2 linked regions of the Homo sapiens genome follow. The protein of the gene in region 2 purifies or fractionates together with the protein of the main gene of each other region. This does not show direct contact. Each region holds a gene or a part of one and is shown on either strand. Other genes may lie near its edges.

The links. The genes of interacting proteins can lie anywhere in the genome.
Region 1: the proteins of PIK3C2A (region 2) and RBSN fractionate together in Homo sapiens (co-fractionation; one large-scale study listed by BioGRID). This does not show direct contact.

Annotation. Positions count from the first base shown.
Region 1 is NC_000003.12:15,078,586-15,082,237, forward strand, and holds part of RBSN (rabenosyn-5), read right to left. Parts: intron 2,218-3,652; coding exon 2,147-2,217; intron 1-2,146. UniProt on the Homo sapiens protein: Rab4/Rab5 effector protein acting in early endocytic membrane fusion and membrane trafficking of recycling endosomes. Required for endosome fusion either homotypically or with clathrin coated vesicles.
Region 2 is NC_000011.10:17,201,427-17,205,078, forward strand, and holds part of PIK3C2A (phosphatidylinositol 4-phosphate 3-kinase C2 domain-containing subunit alpha), read right to left. Parts: intron 2,950-3,652; exon of another isoform or gene 2,881-2,949; intron 1-2,880.

The DNA.
Region 1 (3,652 bases), on a different chromosome or scaffold from region 2:
CCCCATCTCTACTGAAAATACAAAAATTAGCCAGGCATCGTGGTGGGTGCCTGTAATCCCAGCTACTCAGGAGGCTGAGGCAGAAGAATTGCTTGAACTGGGAGGCGGAGGTTGCAGTGGGCTAAGGTCGCACCACTGCATTCCAGCCTAGGCGACAGAGCAAAACTCGGTCTCAAAAAAAAAAAAAAAAATACATATATATATATATATATATATATATATATATATATATATATATACATGGTTTTGTTTTAAATATATATATACACATGGTTTTGTTTTTAAAAAAGGCACATCTACTACTACATGCATCGCTTTAAATGTGGCAGATAGGCAACACAGGTTTAAGACAAAGACAGAAAACTCTGAAATTAATAACACTAGATACCATAATTAATTCTTTTCCTACAGGTTGGGAAAACACTGCTGGGATCTGACTCTAGTAGTTAGCACTTTAACTTCTAGGTTACAAACACTAAGCTTCAGAAAAAGCAACGATCTTAAGCAGGGATCAGCAAATTTTTTCCATAAGGAGCCGAATCATAAATGTTTTCAGCTTTGCAGGCCACACAGTCTCTGTTGCTGCTATTCAACTCTGTCATGGTGGTGCAAAAGCAGCCACAAACAGTAATCAAACATGGGCATGGCTGTGTTCCAATAAAACTTTATGCAAACAGGTGGCAATAACTAGTGTTGGTAAGGCTATAAAGAAAGTGAAACCCTCATACACTGCTGGTGGGAATGCAAAATAGTGCAGTCATTCCACAAAACGATTTAGCAATTCCTCTATGGAATGTTACTCTATGGTAATATATAGTTACCATAAAACCCAGCAATTCCACTCCTAGGTACCTACCCGAGAGAAATGAAAACATGTCTACACAAAAAACATAAAAACTTGTACTCAAATATTACAGAAGCATTATTTATAACAGCCAAAAGTGGAAAAAACCCAAATGTTCATCAACTGATGGATAAACAAAATGTGACAAGTATCCATGCAATGCATTCATACAGATGGAATGAAGTACTGATACATGCAACAACATGGATGAATCTGAAAAACAGTACACTGTGTGAAAGAAGCCAGACAAGAGAGATTTTATATTTATGATTCTATTTATATGACATGTCAAAAGCAGACAAATCCATAGAGACAGGAAATAGATTAGTGGTGTCCAGGGAGATGGGGAAAGGGCAGTGGCTGCTAATGGGTATGGGGTTTCCTACTGGGGTGATAAAAATGTTTACAATGAAGACAGTGGTAATGTTCGCTAATTTTGTGAATACGCTAAAAACCACCAAACTGTACACTTTAAAAGGGTAAAGGTTAGGGTGTGTGAACTACATCTCAATTTTAAAAAAGAAGCAGATGTTGGCCAGACACGGTGGCTCACGCCTGTAATCCCAGCACTTTGGGAAGCCAAGGCGGGTGGATCACGAGGTCAAGAGATCAAGACCATCCTGGCCAACATGGTGAAACCCCGTCTCTACTAAAAATATAAAAAAATTAGCTGAGCGTGGTGGTGCGTGCCTGTAGTCCCAGCTACTTGGGAGGCTGAGGCAGGAGAATTGCTTGAACCTGGGAGGTGGAGGTCACAGTGAGCCGAGATCACGCCACTGCACTCCAGCCTGGCAACAGAGTGAGACTCCGTCTCGGAAAAAAAAAAAAAAAAAGCAGATGTCAGGATACATTTGGCCCACGGGCTGCAGTCTGCCAGCCCCTGCTCTAATGGTCATGCCTGCTTTAAGCCCTGACACCTCAATGTGACACTCAAGTGGCATCTACCCAGACATGAGCATGAGACCCACTGCCCTTCCTCTGCTCTGTCCAGATGCTGCACTCAGCAGCAGTACCTATTGTCTGAGGCCCTTCCCAAACCTGCTCAGTCAGAATAGCCAAGGTCAACTGAATGTGGCTGTCTTTCTACAAGCTCATGTGATGGTAGCCTGTACCCCACTAAAAGACAGACATGAAGATGATTCTCTTCATAATAGCCAAAAGTGGAAAAAAACCAACTTCAGCTGGTCTCAGAAAAAAAGCACGGTTGAAGTTAAGATTTTCATTTTTGGCTACTGGAGAATTGACCTAAAATGCCAGAAAACAGTCACCACTGGATTAGAAAAACATAGATGAATAGCTTACTTTAATGATGCTGCCATCCTGATGTATTCTGGAGCTTTCTGGTCAACTTTCTCCATGCAAAGTCGTAATTTCTAAGAACAAAAACAAAGAGGTAAGTGGTATGCTCAAGATATAGAAACACCTACCCAGAAGCTAGGCTCCATCAATGGAGCTATATTTAAAATGTTCACTTTTCTAACACATTAATTGTTGTTATCAATTTCCTGATTTATAGGCATACTTTCCAAGCAGAAAATTTTGTAGGAAGGAAAGAAAGTGAGAATGGAGCTTCTGATCAGATGTTTCGTTTTGTTTTTTTTTGAGAAGGAATTTTGTTCTGTCACCCAAGGTGGAGTACAATGGCGCGATCTCCACTCACTGCAACCTCTGCCTCCTGGGCTCAAGCGATTCTCATGCCTCGGCGTCCTGAGTAGCTGGAATTACAGGCACGCTGCCACCACGCCCGGCTAATTTTTATATTTTTAGTAGAGACGAGGTTTTGCCATGTTGGCCAGGCTGGTCTCGAACTCCTGGCCTCAAATGATCTGCCTGCCCCGGCCTCCCAAAGTGCCCGGCGAGATGTTTTTGAGAGGAGCAAGGCTTCCAGGGCACAAGCCAAGGTGTCTACCAAGACAAAAAGGAATTAGCTGCTACTTTCTTTCTCTGCCAAGTGATGCCAGGCAACAATGGGAAACCAGCACAAGGCATTGCCAGGGCTTACTTCAAAAGAGGAGGTGGCACAAGCACCGTGGGTATTCACAGAAATGAGATACCAGGTCGTGAACTCCACACAAAGGATGGAGAATGCTACATCTGCAACCCAACATGGGGCTTAATTGACACCATTTCTAGTAGCCTGAGTATTTACATAGGGATTCCAGAAACAGTGCCATTATGACCTGCAGAACTACTAACAATGACTATTCAGTGGTCATTAGGCAAAATTACACTCTTCCTCTGTTCAGAATGTTGCACAAGCTGCTTCCTCTGCCTGGGCTGATCTCTTCCCTGCATCTCTTACTGCCTCCCCACCCAGTCCACCTGGCTAGTCTTCCTCAGCTCACAGGTCTCACCTGGCCATTAAGGGACCAAGCCAGTCTCACTCCCAGATATTCTTTGCACACTATTTCCTCTCAGAGTATGCATCTAGTAGGGGGGCTGTGGGATCACTCAAGTAACGACAGCTGAGGCATTTGGACAAACTTAGAAGGGGACACTCAGTAAACTGGTGAAGCCTGAAAACTTGTAGAACTTTCTAAAACTTGTAAAGTCTAACACTCCCAAGTGAGTTTCCCAGGATTCTTCTGGCCCACTGTTTATGAACATCTCTAGCTTCTGCCCTTCCCACAGAACCTGTCTACACCACATGGCAACTGCCCTTCCTCCTATTGCCTCTGGGCCACCAAAGCTTCCACCCACCTGCTTTCAAGTGGCCAAGGAAGGCCACTTGAAACGAGTTTGTTGCAACACACCCAGGATGACTCTGACTCACACAGGGCCCTAGCTGGGAAATCATAACATGGGCCT
Region 2 (3,652 bases):
TGAGGCAGGAGAATCACTTGAGCCTGGGAGGCAGAGGTTGCAGTGAGCCAAGATCGCACCACTGCACTACAGCCTGGTGAAAGAACGTGACTCCGTCTCAAAAAAAAAAAAAAAAAAGAAAAAAGAAAAAAAAAAAGAAAAGCTTTCCCTAAACCTACGTTTTATGTTCCCTTAGCTAAGTTTTCCCTTAAGTTGTTCTCTGTGCATTGAAATAACACTATCCTTAACACCTCATCATCTTCTTCTTCCTATAGTAAGGATTTACAATCTAAACTCTTTACTCAAAAATCTTGTCTAATTAACTCTTATCTATTTTCCATTTGACTATATTATCCCTTACATCTTTTCTTTCCCGTAACAAATTTTTTTAAATAACTGAAGTACTTTTTGCTACATGGATTGTAGTTAGTTGGTCTCTCCTAGTTGGAATATAAACTTCCCAAAGGCAGGAAGTAACTATTTCTTTATACACTCCAAAAATCTGGTTTGTACTATGTATCTAAACACTCAAATGCCATATGAAGAGATTCAATGAAAAGAATACTGGGGCCCGGGGCGGTGGCCCACACCTGTAATCCCAGCACTTTGGGAGGCAGAGGCGGGCAGATCGCCTTAGGTCAGGAGTTCAAGACCAGCCTGGCCAAAATGGTGAAACCCCATCTCTACCAAAAATACAAAAATTATCCGGGCATGGTGGCATGCACCTGTAATCCCAGCTACTCGGGAGGCTGAGGCAAGAGAATCACTTGAACCCAGGAGGCGGAGGTTGCAGTGAGCTGAGATTGCGCCATTGTACTCCAGCCTGGGCGACAAGAGTGAGACTTCATCTCCAGAAAAAAAAAAAAAAAAGAAAGAAGGAAGAAAAGAAAAGAATACTGGGGTGGACGTGGTGGCTTATGCCTGTAATCTCAGCGCTTTAGGAGGCCAAGGTGGGCCCAGGGGTTCAAGACCAGCCTGGACAATGTGGCAAAACCCCTCCTCTACAAAAAACACAAAAATTAGCCAGGCGTGATGGCACGTGCTTGTAGTCCCAGCTACTTGGGTGGCTAAGGTGGGAGAATCACCCAAGTGTGGGAGGCAGAGGTTGCAGTAGGCTGAGATGGAGCCACTGCACTCCAGCCTGAGCGACACAGAGAGAACCTCCCTCAAAAAAAAAAAAGAACAGAACACTGGGCCTAGCATTGTTAAGACCTGAATTCAAGCAATGCTTCTAATTTATTATGCTAAGTAAGTCACAACATCTTTGGGCCTCAGCAAAATCAGAATACTTGCTGTATTTACCTCACAGGTAATAAGGTCTTGGAGGGAAAACAGTGTTAGCTAAGCTATAACCATCAGTCAATCCAAGTGTAAAGATGTATTATTGTCAGTCATAGCTATCTTGTCTAAAATTAGCCACTAGTGTTTTTTAACCAAGCTCAGTGCACAGCAAATTAAGTGCACCAACATTGCACATCAGTCATATCAATAATGTAACTGTTATACTGTAATACTAACAGAAAGCCTTATGTTTAACAGTAAGCATGTTAATTATACACTATCTTAATGCAGTCTCAAGGTTAAAAGATAAATACTTGTTGCTAAGCCAACAATAACTGCCTTCAAATCTATTAAAAGAGGATTTATAAATCCCATTTGTTTTTGTACCCAAATAGCTAAGTTTAAAATTTTAAGAAATCCAAGAATTAGTTTAAAATTGTATAAATTCTCCTTTTAACTTTCTAAAATGTCCATATGCACTCTCATTGTGTTTTAAATCCATTACATTAGAAAAACAGACTGCAGGCCGAGTGCAGTGGCTCATGCCTGTAATCCCAGCAGTTTGGGAGGCCAAGATGGGAGGATCGCTTGAGGCCAGGAGTTCAAGACCAGCCTGGTCAACATAGTGAGACACCATCTCTATTAGAAAAAAAAAAGAAGAAAGAAAAAAAGAAATAACATACTGTAGAAAAAAAGGATACAAAGTATACATAAATGAACAAAATAAAGATAACAAAAATATGACTCCACTACAGATGCAGAGAAAACAAAGACATTTCTTCTCATCCCAACCATAATCCTATGAACAACCTGAAAGATACTTACAGCAATATTTGCAAGTATGACCATAATTCTCATCAAAAGAACATCATATATGAGTACCATCAAAATGATTACAAATTATAAATTACCAGTGATAATTTTCTCATTGGAGTCCCTTTTCCTTTTTCAAGCAGAGAACCAAGACAGAATAGCCTCTAGATCTTTTTTGTGGTGGTGGTTGTTTTTTGAGACAGTGTCTCACTCTGTTACCCAAGCTGGAGTGCAGTGGTGATCATAGCTCACTGCAGCCTCAAACTCCTAGGCTCAAGAGATCCTCCTGCTGGCAGGGTACAGTGGCTCACGCCTGTAATCCCAGCACTTTGGGAGGCCGAGGCGGGCAGATCACAAGGTCAGGAGATTGAGACCATCCTGGCTAACACCGTGAAACCCTGTCTCTACTAAAATAATATAAAAAATTAGCTGGGCGTGGTGGCGGGCGCCTGTAGTCCCAGCTACTCGGGAGGCTGAGGCAGGAGACTGGTGTGAACCTGGGAGGCGGAGCTTGCAGTGAGCGGAGATCACGCCACTGCACTCCAGCCTTGGCGACAGAGCGAGACTCCGTCTCAAAGAAAAAAAAAAAAAAGAGAGATCCTCCTGCCTCGATCCTCCAAAGCACTGGACTATGGGCATGCATTAATGCACCCAGCCTCTAGATCTATACTGTCCAATATGGCAGTTACTAGTTACATGGAGCTATTAAGTGCCTGAAATGTGGCTGTTCCAAATTGAGATGTACCAAGTGTAACATACACCAGATTTAAAAGATTTAGGGGAAAAAAATAATGTAAAATCTCCTACCTATGTGACTCCCATTTTTGGCTCACATATTTCTCATGTACAGCACTGCTTTATATATGTAGTCGAATCCTGAATAAGGAAAATGGATACCAGAAGTATTAAGCAGTTTGCTCAATATCTCACCGCTTGATAGAAGCAGAGCAGGGCCTAGAACCTGATCACGTTTATCCATCCTGCCCTTATGAATAGAAGGAATTAATCATTTAAGACTCAACTTGAGCATCCTCTTCCTCCTCAAACCCCCTCATTCCTTTTCCATCTCCCAGCCCAGGTGACCATATCCTATTTAGCCTGCCCTTATAATTATACTGTTATAAAATGTACGTTGTCTTCCAAATGGATGAGAAATTCTTGAGAGCAAGCACTGTCTCATTCATTTTTCTTATCCCTGGGAACCTTTGAAGTACCAGGCACTCTTTCAGGCCCTCCGGCACTCTCAGAGCTTTGAGAGGGTTAATTTTTAGCCCTATGCAGGTACAACTACTAAAATGAAATCACCTACAATGTGATGCACCACCAGAAACATCCACATTTATCATTTGCCTGTCTTAAATTATTTTTGGAATATGCTAAATTAATACAATGCATAGGCCAGGCGCAGTGGCTCACACCTGTAATCCCAGTACTTTGGGAGGGCGAGGCGGGCGGATCACTTGAGGTCAGGAGTTCAAGACCAGCTTGACCAACATGGTGAAACCCCGTCTCTACCAAAATACAAAACTTAGGTGGGTGTGGTGGTGTGCACCTGTAATCCCAGCTACTTGGGAGGCTG